Linked DNA regions of Homo sapiens: regions 1 and 2 are each linked to region 3. Evidence: fine-mapped expression QTL. A gene starts in region 3. Each other region holds a variant in brackets. All regions are shown on one strand. Distances are between the middles of the regions.

The links. PIP is the estimated chance that this variant, and not a neighbour inherited with it, causes the effect.
Region 1: its variant is the best candidate, but not a certain one, in a credible set for the expression of SLPI in whole blood (INTERVAL, PIP 0.70).
Region 2: its variant is the best candidate, but not a certain one, in a credible set for the expression of SLPI in whole blood (TOPMed, PIP 0.50).

Annotation. Positions count from the first base shown.
Region 1 is chr20:45,199,545-45,207,243 of GRCh38, forward strand. It overlaps SEMG1 (semenogelin 1), which reads left to right and starts at 7,489. Exons shown (of 3, transcript NM_003007.5): 1 at 7,489-7,585. The coding sequence starts at 7,510. The variant C/A (reference allele first, on the strand shown) is at 3,636.
Region 2 is chr20:45,175,428-45,183,126 of GRCh38, forward strand. LINC02597 (long intergenic non-protein coding RNA 2597) reads left to right here and starts at 4,560. Exons shown (of 4, transcript NR_187568.1): 1 at 4,560-4,707. It overlaps PI3 (peptidase inhibitor 3), which reads left to right. Exons shown (of 3, transcript NM_002638.4): 2 at 434-709; 3 at 943-1,117. The coding sequence ends at 708. RefSeq lists an enhancer at 1-264. The variant C/T (reference allele first, on the strand shown) is at 4,429.
Region 3 is chr20:45,250,776-45,258,474 of GRCh38, forward strand. SLPI (secretory leukocyte peptidase inhibitor) reads right to left here and starts at 3,789. Exons shown (of 4, transcript NM_003064.4): 1 at 3,684-3,789; 2 at 2,800-2,958; 3 at 2,227-2,376; 4 at 1,464-1,644. The coding sequence starts at 3,768. The coding sequence ends at 1,640. The region is part of intron 2 of LOC105372630 (a long non-coding RNA gene); the gene reads left to right.

The DNA of each region.
Region 1 (7,699 bases), 51 kb before region 3:
CCATATCAGCTGCTTGGAGCTCAGGGGCCCCTCCTGCTTAGTAGAGGGTATGTGGCAGTTTGGCTAGTTCAAGGACAGGCTTACTTGGTACGACTGGACAATTATTCCCCAGCTGAAATGCAGTGGCATGAGTTGGTTTCCCTGCTGTGCCAGAATAGAGTCACAGCCAATCCTGGGCTCGAACTCTGCACAGCTGGGGTTGTGGAGTTCAGCCACTATGTGACCTTGGCGTAATGAAGATGGAGCCCAAATGCTGGAGAAGTGTGGTTGTCAGAAGTTCCAGAGGAGGCTACACTCCAGAGGGGGCTCTGTTGTCAAGATGGGACTGTGCTGCGGCAGCTTGGCCCAAGTGGGTGAGTGGGATGTGGGTAGTGCACACCTTGTGCCCCTAATGCAGGGCAATACAGCTGTGTGAATTCCCAGCAGCTCTCCAAACTGGGCTCAGGACTTTAAAGGACTGTGGGATTCTCCTCTTGTAAGGATAGTACATGTTTGCAGTCACAAGGTGACTGGTGGGGACCTTCTCCTTACATTTTCCCTGCAACAGGAAGACCCTCTTGGCTCCAGACAGATCTGATCCGAGTGGAGGGAGACAGGACTGCAAAAACCAGATGCCTCTGCACTGCCCTCCTGAACTTCTAATCACCACGGTTCATCTCCACTCCCCCATGCACTCCAGCACTCTCCCTTTGACACTCCAACCAAATCTTAGCTGTTTGTTACCTTGACCCTTTATTCTGGTGGGGATGAGCACCATGGGTCTCTAGTTATCCATCTTGCTGACTGCCAAATTTTCTATTTCTTCATAGTTAAATCTTGATAGCTTACAGGGGTCTAGGAATTTATCAGTTTCTTCTAGGTTATCTAATTGTTAGTATATAGTTGTTCATGAGTCTCTAATGATCTTTGCATTTCTGTGGTATCAGTTGTAATGTCTCCTTTTTCATCTCTGATTTTATTTAATTGAGTCTTCTTTTTTTTGTTTTACTTAGTCTAGCTAAAAGTTTGGTGATTTTGTTTGTCATTTCCAAAAACCAACTCTTTGTTTTATTGATCTTTTGTATTGTGTTTGTAGTCTCCATTTTTATTATTTCTACTATATCCGTATGATTTCTTTCCTTCTAGTATTATTACAATTAGTTTTCTCTTTTCTTTTTCTTATTACTTGTGGTGCCACATTAGGTTGTTTATTTGAGATTTTTTTTCTTTTTTGTGTAGGCATTTATTGCTGTAACTTTCTGTCTTAGAACTATTTTTACTGTATCTCATAGCCTTTGATACATTGTGTTTCTACTTTAGCTTGTCTCGAAGAAATTTTTATTTCCTTTTTAATTTCTTCTTTGACCAGTTGGTTGTTCAGGAGCATGTAGTTTAATTTCCATGTATTTGTGTATTTTCTGAAGTTCCTTCTTTTATTAATTTCTAGTTTGATAGTAATGTGGTCAGAAAAGATACTTGATATGGTTTCAATCTTCATAAAAATGTTAAGACTTGTTTTGTGGCCTAACATATAATAATCTATTTTGGAGAATATTTCTTGTGCAGTTGAGAAGAACATGTGTTCTGGAGTTGTTTAATAAACTTTTCTGTATACGCCCTTAAAGTCTATTTAGTCTAGAGTGCAGCTTATATCTCACAGGTCTTTGCAGATTTTCTGTCTGGGTGATCTGTCCATTGCTATTACAGGGTTTTGAAATCCTCTAATGATATAGTTTGGATATCCGTCCCCTCCAAATCTCATGTTAAAATGTGACCATCAGTGTTGGAAGTGCAGCCTAGTGTGAGGTGTTTGGGTTATAGGGCTAGATCCCTCATGAATGGCCTGGTGCTATCCCCGCAGTAATGAGTGAGTTCTCACTCTCTTAGTTCACATGAAGACTGCTTGTTTAAAAGACCCTGGCATCTTTCTTTCTCCCTCTCTCACCATGTGATACACTGGCTCCCAATCCCTTCCATCACGATTAAATACTTTATGTGGCATCACCAGAAACTGAGCAGATGCTGGCACCAGGCATCTTAGCCTGCAGAACTTTGAGCCAAACAAACCTCTTTTCTGTATACATTCTCTAGTCTCAGGTATTGTTTTATAGTAATGCTAAATGCCCTAAAACACCTACTATTATTGTATGCAGAGATCTCTCTTCAGAATATTTGCTTTATATCTTTAGGTGCTTGGATTTGGGGTGCATACGTACTTACGATTTCTGTATTATCTTGCTGAATTGACCTCTTTAGCATTATATAATGATCTTCTTTATGTCTTTTTACATTTTTGACTTAAAGTCTATTTGATCTGATATAAGTGTTGCTACTCCTGCTCTCTTTTGGTTTCCACTTGTGTGGAATGTTTTTTCCATCCATTATCGTTCAGTCTATGTGTGTAATTACCAGTATGGTTGCCTCTTTTAGGAAGCCTATTGATGTATCTTATTTTTTTCCCATTCATCCACTCTAGGCATTTAATTAGTGAATTTATTTACCTTCAAGATAATTATTCATAGGTAAGGACTTACTACTGCCACTTTTTCATTGTTTTCTAGTTGCTTTGGTGATTCTTTCTTTCTTTCTTTCTTTCTCTCTTATTGCCTTCCACTATGATTAAGTTAGTTTCTCTAGTAGTATATTTTGATACTTATTTTTTATTTTTAGGGCGTCTATTAAAAATGTTGTCTTTGTGGCTAACATGAGGCCTTTAAAAAAAATCCTGTAGCTATCACAAGTGATTTTAACCTGATAATAATTTGTTTGATTACAAAACATAAAACTACACCTTACCACCACTTCCCTCCCCGCATTTTGATATTTTCATGTCACAATTAACAGCTTTTATGTGCCATATACATTAACAATTTATTGTAGTTATTATTAATTTCAAGTTTTATCTTTTAGCCTTCATACTAAAGATAGAAGTGATTTATACATCACCATTATAGTATCACAGTATTCTGAATTTTGACTGTGTAATTAATTTTATTAGTGAGTTCTACACTTTTAGATTATTTTGTATTACTCATTAGCATCCTTTTCTTTCACCTTGAAGAACTCCTTTAGCATTTCTTGTAAAATAGGTCTGATGGTGACATACTTCCTCACCTTTGTATGTCTAGGAAAGTTTTCATTTCTCTGTCATTTCTGAAGAACAGCTTTGCTGAGTATAGTATGCTTGGATGGTTTTCTTTTTTTTCATTACTTTGATAATATTATTCCACTCTCCTCTGATCTTTAATGTTCCCTTTGAGAAATATGATTTGATTGCAGCACTATTCATACTAGCAAAAACATGGAATCGACTTAGGTGCCCATCAATGGTGGATTGGATAAAGAAAATATGGTGTATATACACCATGGAATACTACACAGTCATAAAAAATAAATAAAATCATGCATTTGCAGCAACATGGATGCAGTGGGAGGCCATTATCCTAAGTAGATTAATGCAGGAAGAGAAAACTATATACCACATGTTCTCAGTTATAGAGGGGAGCTAAATGTCAGATACTCATGAACATAAAGATGGAAATAATACACACTGAAGACTACTAGAGGAGAGAAGGAGGGAGGGAAGGGGACAAGGGTTGAAAAACTAAATGTTGGGTATTATAGTCAGTATCAGAATGACAGGAAAATTCATACCC[C/A]GAGCTTCAGCATCATGCAATATACCCAGGTAACAAATTTGCACACTTGGCCCCTGAATGTAAAATAACAGTTGAAAAAGAAAAAAAAGGTCTGATGTGAAGTGTATTGGAACTGTTTTGCATTTTATTTGCTTCTTTTCTTTTGCTGCTTCAGTATCATTTATTTGTCTTTGATCTTTCACAGTTTAATTATTATATGTCTAGTCTTTTTTGAATTGAATGTGATTGGTGACTGTTGACCATCCTGCACTTTGACTACATATATATATATATAATAGACACATACATATATATATAATATATATGTATATATGTATATGTATATATATGGGTGTATATATGTGTGTGTGTGTGTGTGTGTATATATATATATATATATATATATATATATATATATATGAACTCCTCAGATTTGGAAAGTTTTCTGTTATTACTTATTTAATAAGCTTTCTTTACTTTTCCATTTATCTTTCTCTAACTTCTCTTGAATGCCAGTAAATTGTCCCTTTGCTCACTTAATGCTATTCCATACATCTCATAAGTTTCCTTCATTCTATTCTTTTTTCTTTTTTCCTTTTCTGAGTATATATTGTCAAATAACCTGTATTCAAGCTCACAGATTATTCCTTCTGCTTGATCATTTCTGGTGTTAATGCACTCTATTGCACTTTTCACACTTTTCATTTTATTCATTGCATTCTTCAGCTCCTATATTAACATTAGATATTAAATGTTATCATTTTTACCCTTTGTTACATCTCTCTTTCTGGTCACTTATTGTTTTCATCATTTCATTTAATTATTTATCTGTATTTTATTAAAGTTCTTTGAGCTTCCTTAGAACAGCCATTTTAAATTCTCTTTCAGGCAGGTCATACATCTCCATGTCTTTGGGGCCAATCAATGGTATCTTATTTTGTTCATTTGGTACCTTATTTTGTTAATTTGGTGTCATCAGTTTTCCCCGATTGTTCTTGATCCTTGTGATTGTGCATTGATGTCTGCACATTGAAGAAGTAGGTACTTATTGAATTGCAGGTAGGTACTTGAATGCAGATATTGAATTTAAGGTAGGTACTTACTCCAGTTTGGCTTTGTCTGAGAATGTCCCTCAACTCTGTCCGGAAATTCTAGGCAGATCATCTGTTCTAGGTTTGTAAGCCTGTGACTGTTTCAGTCATTGCAGCACAAGGAGATGTCATAAACCCAGGACCACCATGGCCAGTTCTGCACCAGGCTGTAACCCATGGCTGCAGAGGCTGGCACAATGATGGAATGCATTCCCAACTCCTCCTCACTGATACCTGCCTACGTATGTTGGTTATTCATAATCCAAGGCTGCTGTAGTTGGCTGCCAGTGGTACAGGTAAGAACGCAAGTCTATCTCACAGGAACTATGTGTTCCTCTCTGCTGCTGGGGCAGGTCTTGCTGCTTAGGCCACAGGTATTCAAGCAGGGTCACTATGGGTGTCCTCCCAGTGCTGAATTTTACTATTATAGACTAGTATTTTGTTCCGTGAAAAAGTCCAAGCCTTACTTCATTCCCTTCCCCCCAAAAGAAAGTAGCTCTCTCTGCACTGTGCTGCCTGTGATTGGGTTAGGGGTGATACAGGAAACAAAATTGTCTTTCGTGCCCTCTTCAATGTGTATTTTTAATTATTATACTATAATCAGGTTCTGTAATATCTCATCTGGCCTGTTTAGCTTTTGAGAAACTATTATCATATGTGGATAATTATTAAATTCGACGTTTTGGAGGGTATAATCTCTGGGGAGTCCTACTCTACCAGGTTTTTCTGCCCATTCCCCAAAAATAACTATATTTGAATCTTTTCTAAGTTGTAAAGTGATTTCCCATAGAATTGAGCAAAATACATTTAAGTCCTCCTGTTTTCTTCTTTTCCTATGAGTATAAAACTTTCAGATTTTTGTGCCAATTTAGTGCACTTTAATATTTTTGCATTTTTTATTTGTCCAACAGGACAAATCATTTGATCACTTAATCTTTTCCCCCATCATAATTCCATATCTAAGATGTATGCATCACCATACCATTTTTATGCTTTCCAAATCACTGATTTCTGATTTCAACTTTATCAATACATTCCTTTATCATTTGGAAATGTTTTTTTCCACATTTCATTGAATTCAATTCTAATATGAATATAGTAATCACATGTTTTGCTTGGATTGCATTTTCCTGGTTTGTTTTTGCAAATATTGTGCCCTTTTGTTTTATCTGCATCTTTTGGACACTAGATGAGATGAAAGTTTTGTTCTTGATCCATAAGTAAGATTAATATTTCAGACTCTATTTTGTATCAGTAAGTTTGGAACAGAACAGTTTCTGGTATTTTCTTAAGGGAAGTGTGAGGAAGATTACAGTGGTTAGCAGACACAGTAATCAATTTTAGTTCAGAACAATATCACCTTACTCTGTTGGGGTTTCTGCAATAAGGAACTACTTACTGCCTTTGAGGCAAACAGATAAATTTGGTAAGATCTCAGAGTGGCTCATAGAGAAACCATGCAGCTCACATGATTTATGTTTGATAGCATAGCACTTTTTTTCTGTGGTTGGCCTTTCTCTTTTCCCCTTCCATAGAGCATTGCCTACAGGAAGGTTAAGATTCTAAGACAGAATAATTGAAAATAAGTTTTCAAGCTATCCTTTCCCCAGCACTACCCTCCAAGGTGTTCTGAATGTACACAGGGACACTGTTGGGATGCTTTCTTCTTCTCCTGTGGTCTGCTCATAACGAAGTCTTTATGACTCAAAGTAAAGAAAGTTTCTTCAGACTTTTCAGGATGTCATCACAATTGGAAAAATCTATGCTTCTACCAAAGGTGGGAATTTTAGCTTCATGTCCACTCACAATACATTATTCAATTCATTGATGGTGGCAAATATTTCTCACAGCCTGTTTGGGGATTCAGCTGTTTACTACTGAAGTAGAAACTTCTCTTAATTAAAAAGAAAATTCTGCTGTTTAGGTAGATTTCATGAAAAGAACCCAATCTAGAAACCAGCATTTTTACTTTTTTTCCAACAGTTGTTCCTATCACCATGAAAGCATATTAAAATTCTTTCATCCTTTGAAAACACATCTGGAACTTACCTCACCCTCCAGATACAGCCTCAGCTCTCACTCCACCATGAATTCAGACTTCCTGAGAAGGTTGCAGCTGGTCTCCATCCTTCAACTGACAACCCAATGCAATTGTATTCATCTCTCATTAAAGTTACTAGCAACAACTAAGAAAAACTTTGGATACATGTCAGTCTTTATTGTGTTGAACTTGACAGACATATTTGACATTGGAGTGCCCCATTTACTTGTTTAAAATTTCTTTCTTTGGATTCCATAACGTTTCATTATCTTCTATATCATTGGACTTCTATGATTGCTCATTCTTAGGTAAAATAGAACGTGTCTCAAGATCATTTTTAAAACAAAAGGAAGTATGGAGTTCTATCTAAAATAGAGTATTTAAATTATTGCATCATGAAGGGAAACTCACATTTAGAATATAAAGGCATTCTCAGAAACCAATTGCTTTTGTAGCCTGAAGCCAGTCTCTTTCCTACTTTTGTCTATAATTCTGTAAAATTAAAGTGATCTGGCATGATGATCTAAAAGGACTGATAAAAATTTGCTGGGGCTGCCAGAAGAAAGAAAATGCCTTTGACATTATGTTGCTGGGGACATTGACTTTGTCCCACACTCAGCAGGGGTGAGGAAGTTGGCATTTACTGATAAGCTAAGAAAAGTCAGTGCCTTTTGTAATTTAAGCTCCACCCATGGCACACTCACTCAAGGAAGATATAAATGACAAGGTCGGCTCAGCTCTCAGACAAGGTTTTCCAAGCAAGATGAAGCCCAACATCATCTTTGTACTTTCCCTGCTCCTCATCTTGGAGAAGCAAGCAGCTGTGATGGGACAAAAAGGTGAGTGGAGAGGGTAAGCCTTGGGGAAAGCTGCTCAGACAGCTAATAATCTAAGATTATTTGGGGTGCAAACAGTAACCTGTTTAGGCACAGATTCTTCTCTTTGAAGAGAAT
Region 2 (7,699 bases), 75 kb before region 3:
TTTTATAAGGAGGGAACCAAAAATGTAGAAATGAGTGAGCAATTGCCAAGGTAATTCCCAGAGCCAGGATGGGGCTCAAGTCTCCTAGTATGTGGCTCAGGGTTCTTTCCTACTCCAATGCACTTCCTAACAAATGACAATGTGTCCTCTTCACTGCTGGGTGTCACCCCAGTCTGACCACTGCTCCTGAGAGACTTGGAGTGGAGGAAGGGGGAAGAAACAAATACTCAAGGGAACTCTGGTCCAGTAGACCACCCCAAAAAAGGAAGAGCCTTCCAAGAGTGTAGCTCCCAGAGGTGTACCTTCCCTACTCAGGCCATGGTTTGAGGATGCTGCAGTAAGCAGTGGATGGACCCAGACCCAGAGGAAAGACATGGCAGCTGAAGCAGAGGCTTACTGGGTATAAATGTGGGCTCGTTTCTTCTTTTAACAGTTCCTGTTAAAGGTCAAGACACTGTCAAAGGCCGTGTTCCATTCAATGGACAAGATCCCGTTAAAGGACAAGTTTCAGTTAAAGGTCAAGATAAAGTCAAAGCGCAAGAGCCAGTCAAAGGTCCAGTCTCCACTAAGCCTGGCTCCTGCCCCATTATCTTGATCCGGTGCGCCATGTTGAATCCCCCTAACCGCTGCTTGAAAGATACTGACTGCCCAGGAATCAAGAAGTGCTGTGAAGGCTCTTGCGGGATGGCCTGTTTCGTTCCCCAGTGAGGTGAGCACTAGCTGGAGAACGAGGAGACCCCTGAAGACACAAAAGAAGGCTGAGCGGTGGGGAAGCATCCCAGGTTGGTGGGAGGGAGGTTGTGGGAGGTGACAGAAAGACTGGGAGACTGAGGGGTCTGAGAGGCTATAACCAGAGTGCCTAGAAGGATGATCTGTCTTCCTCACTGCCTCTGAGTGCTTTGATGTGCTGACTCTCACCTCTGATACTCTTCTCTTCCACAGAGGGAGCCGGTCCTTGCTGCACCTGTGCCGTCCCCAGAGCTACAGGCCCCATCTGGTCCTAAGTCCCTGCTGCCCTTCCCCTTCCCACACTGTCCATTCTTCCTCCCATTCAGGATGCCCACGGCTGGAGCTGCCTCTCTCATCCACTTTCCAATAAAGAGTTCCTTCTGCTCCACTTGTTTCTGGTTCCTATGACTTCTGGGCTCCTGGATGCTTTGGGGAAATGGATGTAGAATTGGGACTTCTTCTCTCCAGTGAAGAGGGGAAACGGTCCCATGGTGAAAGAGAGCAGGGCGGGGGGAGGAAACAGGAGGCACATTGCTAGGGCTTCATATTACAAATCCAATAATCAGCCCCAGTGCTGCCAGCTCCTTTTCACCAGGAAATGGAAATATGGAAATCTTGCCTTTGGCCAAGGACCAGGAAAAACACAAAACACAAAAAATAAATAAACATTACATAAACCATAAGCAGGTCTTTTTTTTCCAATCCACCATCAGTCCTGACCTGGCTACTGTCGGCCTTACCAGTGTGACCAGCCAACCCTTATGGCTGCAACTACAGCTCCCCACTTCCTTCTCATTAATGTTTCCCAGGAATCTATATCTTTTCAACACCACATAGAAAGGATGATGTTACAGATGCTGCGAAACTCCTGCTCTTTAGAATTTCACTGGTTTATGCCTGAGATTCCTCCATGAAGTAGCATTCCTTTAGGTTAAGCAATATTCTCTTCCAGATTTCTGTTTTAAGATGTGAATGAGGAGGCAAGATACACTAAGTCCTTCATACTATGGTGTCAGAGGTTTGGGTGAATAGCATTCTCTGGAGACATACATGTTGGGGGCAGGGCAGACTTGAGTAGTGGAGAAAGGGGCAGGAATATGAGCAACCTCATGGCTCTCCTGTTGACCCACTCGTCCCACTGCGATTGCACAAGGAAACTCTCAGAGAAGGCCACAGCCCCCAGGAGGGGAGCAGCCTGGGTGAAGGGGAATAAGCACAGGCTTGACAGTCAGGTGATCTCAGCACTGGCTTTGCCTCCCCACGTATTGGGTGACCTCTGGCAAATGTATGTCCCCCTTCCAGGCCTCAGAGGTCTATTTCAGTTGAGGGGGTAAGGTATAATTATTCTGCAAAGGAAGGTCTAATCCTGCCACTCTGGGATATGAAACAGCTCTTCTTTGTGTATTGGGTTCTTGCTCTGAGATGACATGGGGAGCAGAGGCTTGGGGTGAGACAATGTGGATCCCTGCACCACTTTGCCCCATCCACGAGCATCTGAGCCATGATTTTTCCCTATTGTTCAGAGGCTAGTCCGAACAACTGTAGGGCTTTGACACTAGGGTGTCTTGGAGTACAGGTGACAGCAGTACCCAAACTTCTGGCTTGACAAATACAAAATACATCATTGGAGGAAATAATGGTTTCTGTTTTTTAATATTTACTCTATTTCCTATACCTAGTAGATTACATGTATTGTCACTTATTTTTCATAAGTCCCTTTCAGATGGCCATTATACATATTTTATTTTCTAATTTTGTAAAAAGATTGAAGCTAAGAGAGATTAAGTAACCATTAAAAGCCACAAGGTTAGTAAGTGATAGTAAATGATATTTTTATTATATGCTAGCAACAATCAGTTAGACATGCTGCATTTTCTATTATTAATATCAACAAAATCACACCATTGCTATAAATAAACAAGAGAGAGGCAGAGCTTTAGAAGAGAAATCTATGTAACTTTTCAGAGGCATATAAAAATGCTTGAATATACACATACTCACAATACATGAATATGCACATATCACAATACATGAAGACTATGTGGTGAAGATGTCACTATTTACTCAATATTTAATATTTATTTAATTTATCCCTAAGGTGTATTATACCCAAAATCCATTTTTAATATGGTGTGGTTATGGAGGTTAAGGGAACTTGAAACCATACTTAAGTTTATGGGGAAGCATAAATTCTTGTGAATAGGCGTAGATGTTTACAAATGAAGATTAACCCTAGGGCTCTGGAACCTCCTAGACTTAAAAAAAAGTTTTGCAAAGTAACAATAATCAATATGTTGTTTTTATTAGAAGAATAGTCAGGTTGAGAAATCAATAGAAAACAAAAGAAAACCCAGAATCAGGCCTCATTATATCTAATTCAGGTAAAGATCAATGTCAAGTTCCAAAACAATGAAGAAAACTTGAATTTTTTAAGAAACAAGATTCAGACGGTAGGTTCACTATTTGCAAAAACAAAAGAACTAACTCTGGTCTGAATTCAGGCAAAGATTAAGCCACTGAGAGAGAAAAATTGAAAGGTTCCAAAAAGACACTTTCTTTTCGCTCAGGAAGCAGGCCAGGATGACAGTCCATGCCTAGCAAGGTAGCTGAGCAACTCAAGATCTCACAGAGACCAGTGGTTTCTTCCATCCAGGATTTGCTGTGGAACAGAGACTGTAATTCCTTTCATGTTCAGTCAGGCAGGGACACATCTCCCAAGAAGACCCTGCCATTTGGAATAGTCCTCTGACTGCAGTAGGAGAGGGTGGAGCTGATACTGGGCCCCTCAGGATCTGCTGTGGCACAGTGGCTGGAGATCCCGATCTCATTGGCTTAGAAGGAGTGCACATCTTCCAGCAAGTTCCTGCGGAGACGTAATAGTTTCCTGATTCCAGCAGAAGGAGCTGAAGCTGGGAATGGCCCCACCTTGGGATCTGCTGTGGGATGGAGGCTGGAGAGTCCATCTTGTTGGCCAAGACAAGTACATATCTCCCTGCAAGTCTCAGCACCGAAAGGATAGTTCAATTACAGCAGGAAGTGTCAGAGCTGAGACTGGATCCCATCTCGACCTGCTGTGCAACAGAGGTTGGCAAGCCTGTCAGGGAGGCTTAGGATCTTAGGCTATGAGATATGTGTGAGTCTCCCTCTGGGTTGTTGTGTGAGCAGCTCTGAGCTGGGACCTCAGCTGATGGGGGCTGGAGCTGAATCACAAGGCAACTTTCAGATTCACTGCCCAGTCAGTGAGCAGAAGGGCCTTTCTGCCAAAGCCCTAGTGTATGTGATTCATTCTGGACCCCACAGCAGATGGGTTTGATTGCAGGCTCAAGGCCAAATGTAACCAAACCCCTGAATGGGCCATTTCTGGGATTGAACTCTGGAGCCAGCTCAGTGGATCAGCCACGTGGGTGTTGGTCTGCACTCTCAATATGACCCTCCAAGGTCTTGGGCTCCACCAGAGTTTCACAAACTTCCCCCTGAATCCAGATCCAGAGGCTCCCACAGAGAGACTTTGGACTGTGGATGAGTGTAGAATTCTTGTCATTCTGGTGGGACATGAGCAGGTGCCTTCTATTTCACCATCTTGGTTATGTCATTCCTTCCTCAGCAGTTTTTTTGGTCGATTTTGCAAAGCTTTAAGTTTTACAGTGGGGCTGGAAATAGCAGGAGAGTGTGAGTTCCAGCCCTGGGATTTGTTGTTTG[C/T]TCCCTTTTCACTGACAGGTATTTTGTATTTTTGGCATTCTTTGTTTTCAAGTTATGTTGAGGATGTGGTTTTGTTTAGAAATTTCTTGGTGGTGGTGTTATTTTATACCTCTTGGGGTGGAGATTGTGGAAGTTACTTATTCTTCCTCTTCTGCCTTCTATTGTCTTCAACTACCCCAAAAAAATCTCCTGGAAACTACTCTCTGAAAGAAGTTGGAGAAAAATTATTAATGCACTTGAAGAAGATCAAGAAAAAAGAAAGCGTGAGTAATGTTTTGGGTGAGTTTGAAAGAAGCTATTTTTCTTGCTTCCATTTCATTGCTTCCCTCTGCAATAATTCCGGGTGTGATCCATGCATTGGATGTGTCCTCTAGACTCAAACCAGATTTCAAAAGCAGATATGGGGTACCAGTTCTCCTAACTTCCCAAGCAATGAGAGGTGCTGTTACTAGGGAAGACAGCCTTGTCCAAGGAGTGCTGGAACCAGACAAGGGCTTGGAGACCCAAGGCCTCAAAGAGAGATACAAGGCCCCAACATGTTTCACTTTGCTGTCCCTGCATGGCCTCCCTAGAGATATTGACACCTGATTAACAAATCTTGAATGGCATAAAGGACAACAAAATGACTGTGGGGAGATGTCATTTCCCTCCTTACTTTATCACGATTGCACAGACCCCTGAAGGGAGAAATGCATTTCCTAATTTCACTCAGTAAGTCAAACCCAGAAAAGAACTGGTTCTCTGATTCCCAGACATGGGTTCGTTGTACAATTGTCTGAAAATAGCTGACTTGATCAAATTGTTTCAAATGTAATTTCTATAATTCCAATTGATGCCTCAGTATTTGTCTCCTAATACTTGGAGTCTTTCATTGTTTTCCAATTGTTTAGAATTTCAAAGGAAATTATTAATTAATAGAAATAAGGAATTCACAGCATGATGAGGGCCCAATTTGGGAGATGTGACTTTGGACCAAGTATCTTTTTTTTTTTTTTTGCGACATCTAAGCTTGGTCCTGCCCACCTAGGAGGCTGTGTAACTGTGCAGAGAAGGGAGTCTTTCTACCCACGTTAACTTATCCAGCTTCAAGTCCCTTCCAGGTACCCTCTGTCCTCCGATTCCCTTCTGGAATTCAGGAACAGGTAGTACTATGTCACCTCCCAGACCTAAGTCTTACTCCTAACAGACCTGGATAAGTTCCCTGTTCTCACTAACCTCAGTAACACCATCTGGAAAAGAGAAGGCCTAAGCACGTGGAGTTTTTGAGCCCCTCTAATAGAGCCTCCAAACTACCTAGAGCAAGCTTGTCCAACTTGTGGCCTGCAGGCTGCATGTGGCCCAGGATGGCTTTGATTATGGCCCAACACAAATTCATAAATGAGTTTCTTTGTGATTTTTTTTAGCTCATCAGCTATCGTTAGTGTTAGTGTATTTTATGTGTGGCCAAAGATAATTCTTCCAATGTGGGCCAGGGAGGCCAAAAGATTGGACACCCCAGGCCAGGCGCAGTGGCTCACGCCTGTAATCCCAGCACTTTGGGAGGCCGAGGCGGGCCGATCATGAGGTCAGGAGATCGAGACCATCCTGGCTAACACAGTGAAACCCCGTCTCTACTAAAAATACAAAAAATTAGCCGGGCGTGGTGGCGGGCACCTGTAGTCCCAGCTGCTTGGGAGGCTGAGGCAGGAGAATGGCGTGAACCCAGGAGGCGGAGTTTGCAGTGAGCCAAGATTGCACCACTGCACTCCTGCCTGGGCGACAGAGCAAGACTCCAGCTCAAAGAAAAAAAAAAAAAAAAAGATTGGACACCCCTGACTGAGAGCTTTCTAAGGAGAAATTTGACTATGTGGGCAACTTTTGGGAGGAAGTCAGAAGAAGGGGAAAAATGACTGGATTTGGGGTCCACCTGGCACATTTAAGTCCTCTAAAATGCCATTTGAGTGAGTCACAGTGGCTTAATGAGCTTAGCAGACATCAAGTTTTCAATTACAAGAGAAGACATATATTCTCTGCTCTCCTCCCTTTGTTTCCACCATCTGGATCCAATAATCCAAAACCCAGCAGGGTTCTGGCTTCTTGTCTGAGGCCAGCAGCCCTCTGCTTGTCCCTGAGGCTTTATGGTGATTCCCAAGACGGAACGATAGAGCAGCCACTGGTCAGCCTCAGGAAAAATCAAGCCACTTCTCATGCCCTGTCTAGAACTGAGACAGAGAGACTCTCCTCCAACCAGTCATGTGGGTCAGCCATCTCAAGGGTAAGCAGGTGTCAGCCCTAGGAGGTAAAAACAGGCACCTAGTGTTTATCAGCTCTTAGCATGTCCCCTGATTACACAGCCTTCCATCCAATTTAGAACAGGAAGTACCCCTTGACATTATCACGAACCACCTTCTCACATTAAGGAGGAGAAAACTGAGTCCCAGAGAGGAGAATGAAGGTCTTTCAGTCACAGAGTGCTCCGTAGCCTTGCTGGGCCTAGAACTAAGATGTAGCGCTAACTTCCTAATAAGGTCACTTTGATGGATCCACTTGATCTGGGCCATGAAAGGTGGTCCATTGGATTGAGCCTGACAGCCTAGAGTGATGGAACAGCATAAGGTAATGTGTGAAAGCAAAAACAAAGAGAAGACACTGCAGATGGAAGCAATCTGGCTGAGATAATTTTCTACAACTCTGTGACAAGTCAGCTATTCTCAGTGGAATTTTCAGCACCCCCTTATTCTCTCATTTTAATTATCTTAACTTTCTGTATTTTTTATTCTTATCTCACACGTTTCAATAAAATAGCTTTATAGTATCTTTTAGCCTCTTTCATTGTGGAAAGGGCTGTAGGAGTTTTAGAGACAATCTTTCTACCTCATTCATTTTTACGTTTGTTAGAACTGAATTCCAGAGATAGGAAAGAATTTGCCTAGTTTTTAGCAAATCCACTGTGATACCAAAAAAAAAAAAAAAGCCATGGAAGGCCAGGTGTGGTGGCTCATGCCTGTAATCCCAGCACTTTGGGAGGCCAAGGTGGACGGATTACTTGAGGTCGGGAGTTTGAGACCATCCTGGCCAACATGGTGAAACCCCGTCTCTACTAAAAATACAAAAATTAGCCAGGCATGGTTGCAGGCGCCTGTAATCCCAACTACTCAGGAGGTTGAGGCAGGAGAATTGCTTGAACCAGGGAGGCGGAGGTTGCAGTGAGCTGAGGTCGCGCCACCGTATTCCAGCCTGGTGACAGAGCGAGACTCCATCTCAAAAAGAAAAAAAAAATGCAAAGGAAACA
Region 3 (7,699 bases):
ACCCACAGCTAACATCATACTGAACTGGAACAAGAAAAGCATGCCAACTCTCACTGCTCTTATTCAACTTAATATTAGAAGTCATAGAGCAATTAGGAAAGAGAAAGAAATAAAAGCCTTTCAAATTGGAAAAGAAGTCTAATTATCCCTCTTTGCAGATAACATAATTATATCTACAGAAGAACCTTTAGACTCTGCAAATAAACTCTTAGAACCAATCAATGAATTCAGTAAATATGCAGGATACAGCATCAACATACAAAAATCAGTAGCATTTCTATACAGCCCTACAGGGCTTAGTGGGTGTTCTCCCTGTGTGCAGAGACAAGAGATTGTAAAAGACACAAGACCAAGAGATAAAGAGAAAGCAGCTGGGCCCAGGGGACCACTACCATCAAGATGCAGAGACTGGTAGTGGTGGCTGTGTCTTTAGCTTTGCAAGCTTTTTAGTTTGAGGTAGTCCCACTTGTCTATTTTTGCTTTTTTTGCCTGTCAGCCCTGCTTTCTTTTCCCTGTCACAGGTGTCACTCCCCAGGACACTCCCCAGCAAACCCCCTGTTCACAAACATTTGCCTCTGGGACTGTTTTCCAGAAAACCTGACCTAAGGAAGATTATAAAAGTTTATCATTATCCAAAAATTGGAGAAGAAGAGTAGAAAAAAAATAGTACTGTCACTTTTTCAGCATGTGTTCTGTATGTAACCCAGGAGTTTATCTCATTTCAACGCTAGGTCTCCTCCCCCTGCAAGGTGCTACTTGGGGCACACTCCTAGTAGCGTATTTGCCCGAGCCTAGGTTCCTCAGTCTGGAATAACCCTTGCTGGAGGTGAGAAAAGTATGTAGCAGAATGGTCCAGTGAGGTTTGGGGCATTCCAAGTCTTTCAAAATAATCGAGAGTGGGCACTGACGTAACATGGTTAGTCTTTTTGAGGACTCCATTTGCTGTGAGTTGCAGATAATCTTAATTTTTCTGAGTGTCCAGAGAGTGTTGGTTGGATTAGACAACAGACAGACCTACAACATATCAAGTGTGAAAACCAATATATATATCGTAACACATACAGAGGTGAACACAGGAATCTGCCCCAACAGTTCTGTATGGCTTTAGATGAAAACCCCCTGGATTAAAATAGCTTAACTGTTGGCAGGATCTCTTATGCATAAACTCGTCTCAGGAAAGTTTTTCACCTGCAGTTGACAATCCTGCCAGAGGCAGTAAAATTGAGGTTTCTGATTCTTCATGTTATTGTACATCCCTAATCCCATTGAAATTTAGGAGATAAAATCACTTGTCCCAAATCACAGAGTCAGCACTTTCACACTCATGATATAAATTCAAGTTCCCCCAGTCCCTAAGCCTCTTCCTCCCACTACGTATTCATAGGAAGGAGGCCTCATATCTAGATCTTCCCTCACAGCTTCCCACCCCACTCATACCCCCAACGAATCACAGAAGCAGGATGTGCAAAGAGAAATAGGCTCGTTTATTTATTCATTGATCAACTGGCACTTCTTGAAAGCCTGCTGTGTGCCAAGCCTTTCCCCAAAGGAGGATATCAGTGGTGGAGCCAAGTCTCAGGGTGGAAAGGACCTGGACCACACAGAGCAGGACTCCAGAGCCTCCTCCATATGGCAGGAATCAAGCTGTGAGAGAAAATCAGATAAGAGCTTCAGCATAGAAACCAGCCAAATCATATCCACATCCTTCCTCCTGCCCAAGGATCCTTCTGAGATAGAGAAAATAGCAAGATAGCGCTATAGTTGAGAGAGACTTAGTGTCAGGAGACAAGTCTCATTTTCACCGTAAAACTCTAAACTCAAAGCATTGAACTAGATAATCCTCAAACTCCACTGATCCTTTGTGATTTCACCTCAGAAAACATGATGGAAACAACCTGAATAATAAATTCTTAGTGCACATAGTGCTTTGCAGAGCACTTTCAATCTCATTATGTACATTTTACCGATAAAGAAACTGAGACTCAGAAAGACACTTGCCCAGGACCCCCACCCAGAGACACTAGAATAGAATCAAAGCCACAGGCGATCCTATGGAAATCCTGGCCCTGAGACCTGGAGAACAGTTCTCTTGAAGGACAAGGGAGTCAGACAGAGGCTGTGCTTGGAGTAGGGTTCAGGAGTCCCCCTGCCCATATGCCTGGGCCTCCAGAGGGTTGAGGCTGAGAGGGCTGGAGGGAGCTCAGTGTGCCCTCATCCCCTGCTTACCTTTCACAGGGGAAACGCAGGATTTCCCACACATGCCCATGCAACACTTCAAGTCACGCTTGCACTGGCCATCCATCTCACAGAAATTGGGGGGGTTAAGCATCAAACATTGGCCATAAGTCACTGGGCACTTCCCAGGCTTCCTCCTTGCTGGGTGAGAGTGAGGCTACCGGTCAGAGGCCTTGTACTTTATACAACCCCTCCCATCCCCACTTTTTAGAGTGAGCCCCTGCTCCAGCTTCAGCAGGGGGGATCATCCCCTCCCCACCTCTATCACCACCACCTTCTCCCTAAGGCGGCCCCCAAACATAGCACCTGGCTCTCCTAGAACTTCAGGCCCCCCATTGATGCAGGTGGCCAGCCACCCAGTGCTGACTAGGTGGGAGGCTTCCAACTACCTGGCTATCTAAATGCCCGCTGCTTCACCAGCTGCTGGCTACCTTCCTGCTTAGGGCAGTGTGACTCACTGACGGATTGACAAGGAGGCCTGGCAGGACCCATCACCCAGTTCCATCCCTCTAATGCTGTGTCCCCAGGCTCACTCCTCTCTACCCAGTTCCCCGACCTGCTTACTTGGGTTTGGGGTGTCAACAGGATCCAGGCATTTGATGCCACAAGTGTCAGGACAACATCTCTTCTTCCCTGGACACTGCCAGTCACTCTGGCACTCAGGTTTCTTGTATCTAAGGCACTGGGCAGATTTCTTAGGAGGACAGACTCCAGCTTTGAAGGCTTTTGAAGAGAAAGTCAAGAGGTCAGGAGGAGGCTGGGTACTGAGGACCCATCATGCCTCCTGAACAAAGCACCACTTTTGAGGGGGAGAGACCCTTACCTCAGTAGCTGTCCACAAAGCCCAAAGGGTCATGCCTGCCTGATCTCCAGGTGTATTGATGGGCTTGATTAAATTAGACAAATGGACAGGGGACGTTTCACACCCAAGAAAAGGGCAGCAGGCTTCTAGTCAAGACCTCCCACCCAAGAGCAAAACAAGGCTACACAAAGGCAGAGAGGAAGGCTGGGAGTGATGGAGATGGAGAGAGGTAAACAAAGATAAATAGAACCAGTGTGAGAGAAGTTGAGAGCTAAAGCCCAAGGCAGAAGCACAGAGACAAAATAGCAGAAGCAAAGACACAAGGAAGCAGAGTCAGAAACTAATGATTTGAGAGTCGCAGACAGGTGAAGAAGAAGGCGGAGTATGAGAGAGAGAGAGAGAGAGAGAGAGAGAGAGAGAGAGTGGGACCTGGGCTGACAGCATGGCTGCATAGAGGAAGCATTTCCAGAAGCTCAAACTGTCACACAAACCTTGGAGCTCAGCCAGACATGTATTCCACCCTCAGGGAGGTCTCCCGAAACTAAGCTGAGGGATCAGAGCCTACAGAAGGGGACACACCCACACCACAAGGAGACCCCACCTCTGACCCTGCAGCCCAGATTAGACCAGAGTGACTCCAACTTACACTTTCCAGAGCCTTCCACAGCCCAAGGTGCCAGAGTTCCCAGGGCAAGCAGCACCAGGAAGGGGAAGAGGCCGCTGGACTTCATGGTGAAGGCAGGAGTGACTCTGATGGCCAATGCCAAACCTCACTATTTATTCTTTCACCAGTGGGTGTGGCCCCACCAGAATTCTTTCGGCCTCTCCCAGCTACTATTGCATAAGCAGGAAACGTAGCCAGAGACCAGAAATCCTGACACCAAGGAGATTGTTTATCTTTCCTATGCCAGGTAAGGCTATGAGGCCAACACAGCAACTATCAGAAAAGAAAGGGAAGAGATTGGCCTGGGAAGTTGGTTGATTAAAGAGGCCATCTCAGTGTCCATCTGAGCCCTAAACATCACAAGATCCCAGGCCATTAGCCTTATAGGTGGAGAGAGGGAAGAAGTGGTCAATTGCAAAGGTGCTACCCGGACCTGGAACTAAAACCAGACACAGACTCCCTGCTGAGACTTTGTGCAATACATTCTATTCTCACATTGCTAATTCTGATTCTCACATTACTGGACTCTCAGGCATTGTGAAACTCTGCTGATTACTCAATGCAGTTTCTTTCTCAAAAGTTCAGCTCGTTCAACCAACTGATACTTAGTTCCCTGAAATATTTACACCGTTATATCCCCAGTGCCTGTTCTGTGCCTGACACAGGAAAAGCACTCACAAATGAAAGCTGAAGAAGAGCTCCGCTCTCCACAAATCTCTCTGGAGCTCAGTTGTCTCAGCTGTGAAATGAAATGATACTAACAAGTCAGCCCTTCTCAGAGGGTTATGAAATTAAGGGCATGAAGGGACTCTGAATGAAAAGAACAAATGAATAGTATCCCTTCCCACTAAAGAGAATTGAAATGAATCTGAGATAAAGGGGGAAAGCAGCTCATCAGTCACTGTAATCTACATTTAGCTGTGAGATAATTTGAGATCTTAGAGGATTGCTTCCTAAAATTCCCCAAAATCCCTTACAGATCTCACATGACAGCAAAAAATTAAACCCATTCTATTTGCTACCCAGTCTGCATAGGTTGCTTCTAATTATAAAGAGAGCGACCATTATCTCTAAAATTCAGCCCATAGCTGAGTGTAGGGTCGCACACTTGCTGTCTCAGCTGCCCAGGAGGCTGAGGTGTATGGATTCCTTGAGAGTAGGAGTTTGAGACCAGCCCTGGCCACATATTGAGACCCCATCTCTACAAAAAAATGTAAAAAATTAGCCAGGCATGATGACGTACGTATGCCTGTAGTCCCAGCTACTTGGGAGGCTGAGCCAGGAGGATCGCTTTAGCCCAGGAGTTTGAGGCTGCAGTGAGCCATGATTGTGCCACTGCATTCCAGCTTGGGGGACAGAGCGATACCCTGTCTTAAAAAAATAAAATAAAATAAAATTCAACCAAAGCTCATCTAGCTACAAACTCCAAGCTCTTGACTCATTATCTTCATGCTTGGAATTCTCCCATTCATTCCTAAGGTGAAGGTTTGTGGAACTTTCCACAGACATGAAAGACCCACTCATTATCAAGTAGCGATGGCCCCACATGAAGTATTTAAGTATTCCACAACCAAACAGGCAACTGGCAGCAGATCCCTTTATACAAAAGTCACTCCATGGTTTGAATTTTGGTGGATCAGAAGACTTGGACATAATCAATCATCAGTCAAATTTTGGTGGAAAAAGAAAAGGAAGAAAATTAATATGCACAAGGTAACTACTATGAGCCAGGTGCATTCACTCTTAGTTGGAGTACTTAGTAGGGTAGGTAAGAGAGAAATGGAGGCTATGATTTCCACCAATGGGTAATGACACTCTCAGGTCAAGATTTTTGTTCTCACTTCCACCACCCAGGGGATAATTTGATTTCTCTCACAGAGTTCCTGTTCTCTCTCTCTCTCTCTCTCTCTGTTTGTTCCTATTTTCCTCAGTGCCACACTCAAGAAATTATCTGGAGTTTTCTAAATATTTATTTCTTAAAGAATGAAAAGGGGCTGGGCACGGTGGCTTATGCCTGTAATCCTAGCACTTTGGGAAACCAAGGTGGGCGGATCACTTGAGGTCAGGAGTTCAAGAGCAGCCTGGCCAACATGGTGAAACCCTATCTCCACTAAAAATACAAAAATTAGCCAGGCAGTGTGGCACACACCTGTAATCCCAGCTACTCAGGAGGCTGAGGCAGGAGAATCACTTGAACCCTGGAGGTAGAGGTTGCAGTGAGCTGAGATTGTACCATTGCATTCTAGCCTAGGCAACAAACTGAGACTCCGTCTCAAAAAAAAAAAAAATTAAAAGGAAAATGCTACAGCTTAAGTTTTTTTTAAATCTGTGATTGACTGATTGCTCAATCTGTGATTGACTGATTAGAGCCAGCTCCTTTCTCATCAGAAAAGAGCCCTGTGCCCAATTAGCAATGTCTTCCATGGGTGTCATAAGAAGATAATAGTATATAATCATTATTATCTTTGACATAATTGGTTCTAAATGTTTACATCATAGAATGTTAAGACTAAAAAGAGGACTTCAAGGGTTTTCTAGATCAGCAAACTACAGTCCTTGGACCAAATCCACCTAGTTACCTGTTTTCATAAAGTTTTATTGGCACATAGCCACACATCCATTAATTTATGTATTGTCTAAGGCTATCTTTCCACTACAATGGCAACAGGGACCTAAAATATTTACTGCACAGCCTAAAATACTTATCGTCTGGTCCTTTACAGAAAATGCTAACCCCTAGACCAAACCCACAGCTTGCATAAAAGAGACTGAATCCCTTAGAAGAAGATCCAGGCCCAAAGCTGCATAGCGGATTAACGACACACACAAGATTGAGCTTTTCTAAAACAGGTTACTCACATGCTGATCCCCAGAACCTGTCTGGTGGAGGACACTTCCACTCCTAACCAAATCTTAACCTGAGACTGACTCATTCAATCTATCTCAAGGCTGGGAGTGGTGGCTCACTCCTGTGATCCCAGAACTTTGGGAGACTGAGGTGGGTGGATCACTTGAGGTCAGGAGTTTGAGACCAGCCTGGCCAACATGGTGAAATCCCATCTCTACTAAAAATACAAAAATCAGCCGGGCATGGTGGTGTGTGCCTGTAATACTCAGGAGGCTGAAGCAGGAGAATCACTTCAACCTGGGAGGCAGAGTTGCAGTTAGCTGAGGTCATGCCACTGGGCTACAAGAGTGACACTCTGTCTCAAAAAAAAAAATCTATTTCACACACCCTTTATTGCCTTCTACCTAAATCCTATAGATTCCTTCATTCATTTATACAAACCATTCACACAAAAGTTGTTTAACATTTCTTACCACATGTCAGGTATTGCACTAGGCCTAGGGCTACAGAAAAGAGCACGCCCACGGAGTCGACACCACATGGTTGTTAAGAACCTGAACTTCAAAGTCAGACTTACAGGTTGGAAGCAAATCACTGAACCTCTTTGAACTTCAGCTACCTCCACTGAAAAATGAGAGTGTTGCTGCCTCTGGAGTCGTACAGTTGTTGTGAGGAGTATTTGGAAAGCACTCAGCAAACTGTCTGGTCCCCTCAGTACATTACACATTGTTTTTATTACCGGCGTGTCCCTGCACACATTAAGCGCACAGGGAGCTGTCAGTCTTTAACTAAATAGCTTAGTCCTTGGGTCTGGACCCATCTGGCTCTGTCCCATTAAATGTTTGACAAAACATGGTCTTATTTCTTGACAAAATAGACCTGATTGGGCCTATTGGTAGGTAGGTAGACAGACAGATAGACAGATCTTAACTGACAGATAGATATAGATAGATAGATAGATATAGATAGATAGATAGATAGATAGATAGATAGATAGCCAGATAATCAACTATTGGTTCTGTTTCTCTGGAAAACCCTGGCTGATGGAACCTGCTTGCCTCTGCACTTCCCAATGCCATTTATTAAAGTTGGTTACATCATTACTTGTGAGGCTGCATCATCCTTTATGCCTTCTCTGAATACTGGCTTC